3 separate regions of the Homo sapiens genome follow, and all the other regions are linked to region 1. The links come from fine-mapping of genetic effects on plasma protein levels. A gene starts in region 1. Each other region holds a variant in brackets. All regions are shown on one strand. Distances are between the middles of the regions. Region 1 holds the start of PXDNL (peroxidasin like). Region 2 has its middle 530 kb from the start of PXDNL. Region 3 has its middle 560 kb from the start of PXDNL.

Evidence for each region. PIP is the posterior inclusion probability: the model's chance that the variant is causal. The UK Biobank Pharma Proteomics Project read protein levels with antibody pairs (Olink). The fine-mapping took linkage between variants from a reference panel, not from the people measured, so its PIPs are less certain.
Region 2: its variant is fine-mapped to the plasma level of the PXDNL protein (UK Biobank, PIP above 0.99).
Region 3: its variant is fine-mapped to the plasma level of the PXDNL protein (UK Biobank, PIP above 0.99).

The regions. Positions count from the first base shown.
Region 1 is chr8:51,808,244-51,810,846 of GRCh38, forward strand. PXDNL (peroxidasin like) reads right to left here and starts at 1,202. Exons shown (of 23, transcript NM_144651.5): 1 at 938-1,202. The coding sequence starts at 1,101. RefSeq lists enhancers at 575-1,097, 1,098-1,619.
Region 2 is chr8:51,279,348-51,282,200 of GRCh38, forward strand. No RefSeq gene overlaps it. Among named protein-coding and RNA genes, the nearest start is that of PXDNL, 530 kb to the right of the region's middle. The variant A/T (reference allele first, on the strand shown) is at 1,429.
Region 3 is chr8:51,243,391-51,246,243 of GRCh38, forward strand. No RefSeq gene overlaps it. Among named protein-coding and RNA genes, the nearest start is that of PXDNL, 560 kb to the right of the region's middle. The variant C/T (reference allele first, on the strand shown) is at 1,571.

The DNA of each region.
Region 1 (2,603 bases):
GTTTTGTCTTCCATGAACATGACACAACCCACAAAATATTTATTATAGAGCAGGAAACCTCTTTAGTCTGCATCTTTCAGCATTTTTCCTTTTCTTCTTTTATTTTTTCTTAAATTTTTGAATTTGTCGTCTTTTTCTTTCTTTAAAAATAGACCCTAGAAACAGATCCTTTTCTTCTTTTGTGGTGATTTGCCCTTCTAATTATCTAATTATGACTTAATTTAATCTAAATAAATCTAAATGTTTGGGTTTATTATCTGAATATTAAAGATGAGAAGATAGGATTTGAACTCAGACCTGTTTGACTTCCAAATTCTGGTTTGCCCTACTATCCCGTAATGCCTCCTAGATGCCGATTAGTCTAAGCGGCTGCTCCACAAGGCTTTTAAGCATTCAAGAACTCTACTGGACCATTTGAGGGTCTGTTCTGGAGACAGACAGTGCTTCAAGTGCTGAGGGCTCAGGACTTCACCCTCCCAGGAGGTACACACAGTACAAAGCCTAACAATTTGTCAGCACATAATCAATTGAAACCACACTCTAAAGTTAAATTAGTTCCTTCCAAATGGGGCAGACACGTGCTGACCAATTAAGAGGCCCAAAGACTTGGGAGTAGAGGATGAATAGGAATAAATTGAGAAAGTATGCAGGAAAATTATTGAAGGAAGAATGAAGACGAGAATTCTCAATGCTAAGTTCTGGAAGATGCTGGAAGAGAACTGAATCCAAAACAAATATATTTATGTCAACTCATCATTGCTTACATTTTCTAGTCTAACAGAGCAGAACCATGAAATTGTTTGAAAAGTGAAAAGCCTCTTCTAAGTATACAAGCAGGGAGAGCATTAGGAATCGTAAATTAAAAGGACACAGGTCCTAGCAGAGAAGCAATGAAGCATTGGGGAAGAGGGTTTCTGGGGAATTTATGTGAACTTACAGAACTGTGGTCTGCTGTGGTACCTGAGGAATGTGGTCCAGCATCAAGTGCATGCAGCGGACGGTGCTCTTAAAGCAAAGGCACCGGCTGGGGCAGGGCAACCCTGGCAGGCACCACCCGGCCAGGAGAAAGAGAGTGGTCCAGCAGAACAGTCTGGGCTCCATCGCTCCATTCGCTGCTGGCCACGCGAAGAAGCAGCCGGAGGGAGAGCAGCAGCTGCAGCTGCAGCAGCAACCGCAGTGGTGGTGATGGTGGCTGCTGGACTGAGCCAAGTTTGGGAGCCGTGGTGGAAAGCAGCTCCCAGGGAAAGGACACCCCTCTGACCAATCCAGGAGGAGGGATATCACATTACAGGGCTGAGGGCACAAGCAGCTCTAGGAAGCACTAGACTCCCAGAGGCGAGGACGAGAAGCTTTTCAATGCAAAAGCCTCTTTCTAAAACACCGTGTTTTAGGCAGCATAATGCAAACAAACTTTTCCAAAATTACTTCCACTGCGCATTTGATGAAAAACCCGACCTCTTAGCCTCCAGCTGTCCTCTTGAAGCCCAAGTTGATTAAGAATGTATTGAAACAATGCAGAACAGCTTTTCTTCTTTTTTATCTGGTAACATTACCAAACCCTAAAGGGCAGGCAGAGTTCTAATTCGTTCATCTAGGTGCACATATTCTTTCTTTATTCCAAACTATGCTCTTTAATAAAAATTGTTTCATTTCCTTCTATATATTCTGCTGCTGAAACCCAACACATTTCACTCATGTAAGACTCAAACGGGCTACTTCTGATTTCTTCTTTTAACGTTTAAATTTATATGCTTAAAACCATGAACTCACATACCTCCTTCAAGAGGATACAACTGATGGACAAACCTAAGTATGTATATGTAAAGTCAAACAGATGCAAGCTCCCTCAGGACACACTGGCAGCAGTGGTCTTGCTGGTTGCAGACTTTTCATCAGCAGTTTGAACTGGCCATCTTTCCCTGAAGTGAGCAGCACCTCGTTGAGGACGTGTCTGAAAACTTAATAAATATGAAAACATCTACTTTTTGGTCATTCTGTAAGCAGGTATTTTTAAACAGATTTTTGGCTTTATCTTTAAAGACTAACATTTTCAAACAAAAATGTTTTAAATCCATAAAAGTAATAGAAAACAAATTAAAACTTGCATGGTCAATCCCAGATGATCAGACTAGTAGACCAATCTTAAGAGGAAAATAAGTTCATCCTTGTCTCTGCAGAAATGTTTCAGTCCCTTTACATTCTACTGTAGGCGAATACTGCCCTCTTTTGGCAAAATGTTCATATCTAAATATGTGATTTTGGGGAGATTAAAATGTAAAAAGATCTAAAAAACAAAACTAATCTCCATGAACAAGAATGATTTATTTTAAACTTTACATTTGACATTGTTCACATGACTTTTATTGTCCAAGTATACCAATAAAGCCAAAAAACGAAATTTATTCCTTTAAATCCCAACAATCACTATGCTCTTGGCAGTGCCTGTGATTTGGAGGACATAGACAAGACCTGCAGGTTTGTGCCTTGTTTGCAGTTCAAAATATAAAATACAAAAAATATAAATAATATAAAATATATAAAATACAAAAATATAAAAATATCTTGCATTCATAAAGTAGACTTAAAAAGGGTAGGGACTCAGA
Region 2 (2,853 bases), 530 kb before region 1:
AGATAGAAACGTGTTTACTCTTCCTCGAATATATGTATTCAAATACATAATATATATATATATATATTTTAAGAAAAAATATTTGTGCAGATTATTTATGTAGATACCAGCTCTCCTTTCTTGACTGATTAGCTTCTAAGTTCCATAAAGAATCCACTGTCCCATGATAACCTTTTTTACTATGTCACTAAACAAAACCAATAAATTCCATCATCATTCTATCAATTACATAAAACTAAATGCAAATGAAAGTTTAAAATTTTTCACCAAAATATACTTAGAAAAGCAACTTTACAAAAATGGAATGATTTTCCACATTTCCTACTATTTGAAGGTGCTTCTTAGAGTAAATGGTTGAATGTATGTATAATAAATCACGATTTGTGAGCATATTTAATCATTTTTATATTACAATTATTTTTAATATGAATCACTCAATAAATTATCACATAATGAATTAAGGAATAATAAAAAAGCATTTATTACTTGCAAATATGTATAGTGTCATGAGTAAAGAGAATTAACAGACTTGTTAAACGCCACCTTAGCGAGTTATGGTTTCTATAGTGCTCAATAAAAACAGATGCCAAATCTAATTCAATTTAATTAAACATTTCTAAGAATATTTTGGAGTATATTAAATTTTGAAAATGCTAAAAATTACTCATTGGCTCTAGGCACAAATAAACAGTATGTCTCATATATTTCAGGAAACGGATAATAATATCTGACTTCTCAATTTTCATGAGAAGCAAAACGGAATGTGCTATTAAAAGCCTTAATGCTGCATGTGTTGCAGCTGCCAAATTCTAAAATTTCAAATTAATGACTGTACAATAAACATTAAAATAATAAGCAAAATAATTAAGAGTGAAGCTTACATATGGCTTATATGCTTTTAACTAGGCTTTTAGAGTTTGCAAAGACCAAGAGCTGCAGCACTAATTTCATTGAGAGATTTTTTAAAAATTAGTGTTCTTCAGAGAATCTAGATGAATATTCAGAAACAGTTAAGCATGCTAAGTAAACTTTCATATAAGAATGTTTTTTAAAATTGTGTTTGAAATGTAGCCAACACTTTGGTGTTGATTCTCCCTTAGACAGTGTCAATATTTTTTAAATAAACCTAAAATGTTTGAAATTTATCTATTTGTATACTTTGTAATGAAATTAAACTTACTGCTAAGTTTCTTTATCAAAGTTTTTAGAACTCTTTTTAAATGTTCATATTATAATATTTTTGATAAATATACCTGAATTTCTAGCATCTTAAGAATTTTAAATGATCAGGCCAAGCACAGTGGCTCATGCCTGTAATCCCAGCACTTTGGGAGGCCAAGGCGGGCGGATCACCTGAAGTCAGGAGTTAGAGACTAGCTTGGCCAACATGGCGAAACCCCGTCTCTACTAAAAATACAAAAATTTTCC[A/T]GGTGTGGTGGCATATGCCTGTAGTCCCAGCTACTCAGGAAGCTGAGTCAGGAGACTTGCTTGAACCCGGGAGGCAGAGGTTGCAGTGAGCAAAGATTGCACCATTGCACTCTAGCCTGGGTGACAAGAGCAAAACACTGTCTCAAAAAAAAAAAAAATAAATGATCAACAATGACTTGGCTTTTATTGTTATACCTTCTCTTGGAAAAGTGAGCAAAACTGCCTTTGACGGTAAGAAAAAAATATTTTTTTCTTTTGAACTTGAAAACATTTTAGAGAAGAGATAGAGTAGATGATAATTGAGTCACTAATAATATCTAGATGCCTTAGCTGCAGAGAACAATCAACTCCCAGACTTTTTTATAGCTATCTTCTCAAGGATGCAAAGATATTCTGGCCTATCTGTAACACTTACTCTGAGGATAAGGCAACATCAACTAGAACATTTGCTACTTAAGATATGTTATTATTGAGAACTTGGGTCTCTCAAACTGATGTTTCAGAAGGTTGCCTCTTGCTCAACAAGAACAAAATGTCAGGACTTTCTCTGGGGCTCGATGCTGTTGGCCATGAAGAGTGTCCAGGGACTGACCAGGTGCAGGCTCTGTGCCAAGCAGGCCACAACATGAATCCAGCTTTGCTGTCACTAGTCCACCATCCATTCCTGCCTAGGGAGAGCAAAGTTGGGAATTCAGTAAGAAGTTACAGATAAAAAGGGGGACTGCTATGGCAACAAAAAATGCTGGAGTTCTGTTCTCACACACTCTGCATAAATGTCACAGGAGAGGGGCTCAAAAACCACTTCTCCCATGGCCTGTGTGGGACACAGGGACTTAAGACGCACATGGAGACGACTCTAGGTGGAGCTCAGACAGTGAACAGAGAGGGCTATGACTGGAAGGGGTTGCGTTCTCCCTATGGCAGGGCACAGGGTGTGCTTTCTACTGGCCAACTGTGGATCTCCTGAAAGAGATCCAAGGTGAGCCATCACCGACAGATCCTATGGCATTGAAGAGGACTGCCTGGGTGCATGACACTGACAAGAGCTGCTGCGTAGGGGCTGAGTGGTAGTCACCTGCCTCCACCTGGAGGAGGTTTCACCTGACTCAGAAAATTACCAGTTTCCCTGGCTGGGAAGTCTAAGAAATCCACCAGAGCCTTTACCTAAAAGGCAGCTTTTAATTCTTTTGGAGATTTGTGAACATATTGGAAATATGATTATTATTAATAAGTTGATAGAAACTTTATACCTCCTGGCATTCTCTCATTCTTAATTTGAAGCTCAAAAAGGGAGCTCTTTATTTTCCTCTACTGAACTAAGAATTCCTTTTGTGTGTTTGCCATTTCAGCAACCTTGCCAAGATATCTGTCACCTCCTAATTTCTTATCTTCACTCTCTTCCTCTCTCCGTGGGGTCTCCAATGT
Region 3 (2,853 bases), 560 kb before region 1:
TAACATCCAAATGGTGATGTCAAAGGCACCGTTTGATATACGTCTGGGGTAATGGAGAAAAATCAGGGCTAAGAAACATATTTTAGAGTCATTGACATATAGGTGTATTTGAAGCCATGAAAGAGCTGAGATAATAAAAAGAGTAGGTAGAGAGAACAAGATCAAAGGGCCTGGGAGCAAGTGATGCAATATTTTGTAGATGAGAAAAAAAGAAAGACGAGCCAGGAAGAAAAAAAAAAAAGAAAGAAAGAAAGTAGATGGTGAAATATTTTATAGAAGGAAATACTGAGCATTTTGTTTTCTTAGAAGCCCAGGGAAAAAAGAGTTCAAGATGGGAGGTATGGTCAACAGTGTCAAATACTGAAAATCAGCTGGGTGAGATATAAACAGAGAAGTGAACATTGGATTTGACAACACAGAAGTAAGGTCAGAGCCTGACTAGAGAGAATTGAGAAGAGAACATGAAGTAAGGAAATTATGATAGTGTCTGTAGAAAATTCTTTCAACAAATACACATTATCTTGTTATTCTTGTTAGTCTAGTAGAGAGACGAGACAATATCTAGAAACCTATGTGGCATCAAGGGGTCAGGAGACAGTTTAGTTTTAAAAGAACACATGATTTTATGCTGATATAACTAAAACAGTAAAAATAGAGATACGCTTATGCAGGGGAAAGAAGAGATAACTGGCAATAATTTAATATTTGAGAAGTAAGACCAGATGAGATCTAGTACTCAAGTAGAGGTGGATCTTTGGTAGGATGTTTGGTAGGAACTAGAACAGTTTATTTTTATAACAAGAAAATAGAAAATAGGGAGTAAGAAATATAGTAAGAAAATATGACCAGATTGCTTGGTCATATTTGAAAGATTCCAAATATCCATTTGAATTCTGTGATCATGAATTTGAGTTAGACTCTTTAGCACTATCTTGTCATGTTCTCAGGCAGAATAGGAGCTAGATGAAGCCTGCAATCTTTGATTTTCTGTCAAAGTAATTTAACCGGAGAAAGAAGTGAGAGAACCAAGAATGTCTGCAAAAGATAAATTATAGCAATGTACCATGAAATCCAGGCTGGCCAGGGAGGGTTTGACAGCACAACAGGGCAACTGACAATGAGAAAAAGAAGTGGTGATGCAGTTTTGTTGTTGGTGATGAGGTTAATGATATAATACGGAAATGGACTGGGTGGTGCTGCTAAGTAAAAATGTCGTCAGTGAGGAGATGCAATGAAGGCAAATATTATCTACAATTGTTGAAGTCACAAGGAATAGTGATAGGGAAATGGGAGGGGAGATGTTAAGCAGGATGTTAAACTCACAAATGAATGAAATAGAAATGACTAGGAGACAAGTAAATTATAAGTAACAAGAAGAGGTAGCAGAGGCAACATGAAAAGTTTAAAATTCAGAATGAAGACTTAATAAAAGGGAATAGTAACTAAAAAAAATTGCCATTTCTATACTCTATATTTGTAAATTTTTCAATGAAGTATATAAATATCAAATTTTCTTCCTTTTAAATTACCACCTTATAGCCATAGAAATATAGATGGCCTATAACAAATA[C/T]AGGTTTTAAAAAAACCCACAAAACTAATGCAAATTCACCCCATAGAGTGTTTAGCTTATTAAATATATGTACACTGAAAAAACTCAAAATCTTCTCTATATCTTCAAGTAAGTTGGTAATCTTTTTTTCTGTAAAGGGTAAGAGAGTAAATGTCTTAAGTTTTATAGGACATGCAGGCTCTATGGCAATTACTCAACTCTACTACTGTAATGTGAATGCAGCCATAGATAATATGTAGATAAATTTTTGTTTGTGAAACAATACAACTTTATTTATAAAAACAAGTGATGGGTTAAATCTGACTTCCTGGTCTTAGTTTGCCAACACTTGAGTTAGAGTCCAACAACCAACTTAATTAGAATCTCAGTTTTAAACTCTAGTGGATTATAAAAATCAATAATAGCAATGCCTTTATATCTATGTCTCTAAATATATATTTAAGTGGAAGTATTTGGAATTGAGTATTGAACTATGAATATTTTGCCTTAGAAATATTTGAAATTTTGGAGATTAAAGACGACTGAGTTATGCATAGTTGCTCAGCATTCTAAAGACACAGCATGTAGACAAATTCAATATAACATACTTATCATCAACTGGGTGCCGTGGCTCATGCCTGTAATCCAGCACTTTGAGAAGCCGAGGCAGGCGGAATACAAGGTCAAGAGATCAAGACCATCCTGGCCAACATGGTGAAACCTCGTCCCTACTAAAAATACAAAAATTAGCTGGGCTTGGTGGCATGTGGCTGTAGTCCTAGCAACTCGGGAGGCTGAGGCAGGAGAATTGCTTGAACCCAGGAAGCAGAGGTTGCAGTGAGCCGAGACTACGCCACTGCATTCCAGCCTGGTGAATGTTACCTATATGTATTTCTTCAAAAGATAAAATAAGACAAAAGATGTTTGAGGAAAAAATTATCATACTAGTTGCTCTTAGAAGAGTTCATTTAAATAAAATTTTTAGATAAAATTGTACATCCATCATTCATGATTACAAGATGAAATAAAAATGAAGTTAAGATAAAAATGGCTTAGGGTAACTTCCAGTTTCCAGTCTGGCATCTAAGGGCTCCAAAAGTTATCACTTCCATCTCTACAAGAAGATAAAGGAAACTGAACAAATTGAAAATCATCAATTCCTTTTATATCTATCTGATAATTGAAGTCACAAAGTCAATCACTGTCTCCCATAATTAGAGAGACAAAGCAAACTAACACAGGAATACAAAAACAAAATACTGCATGTTCTCACTTGTAAGTGGGAACTAAACATCAAGTACATA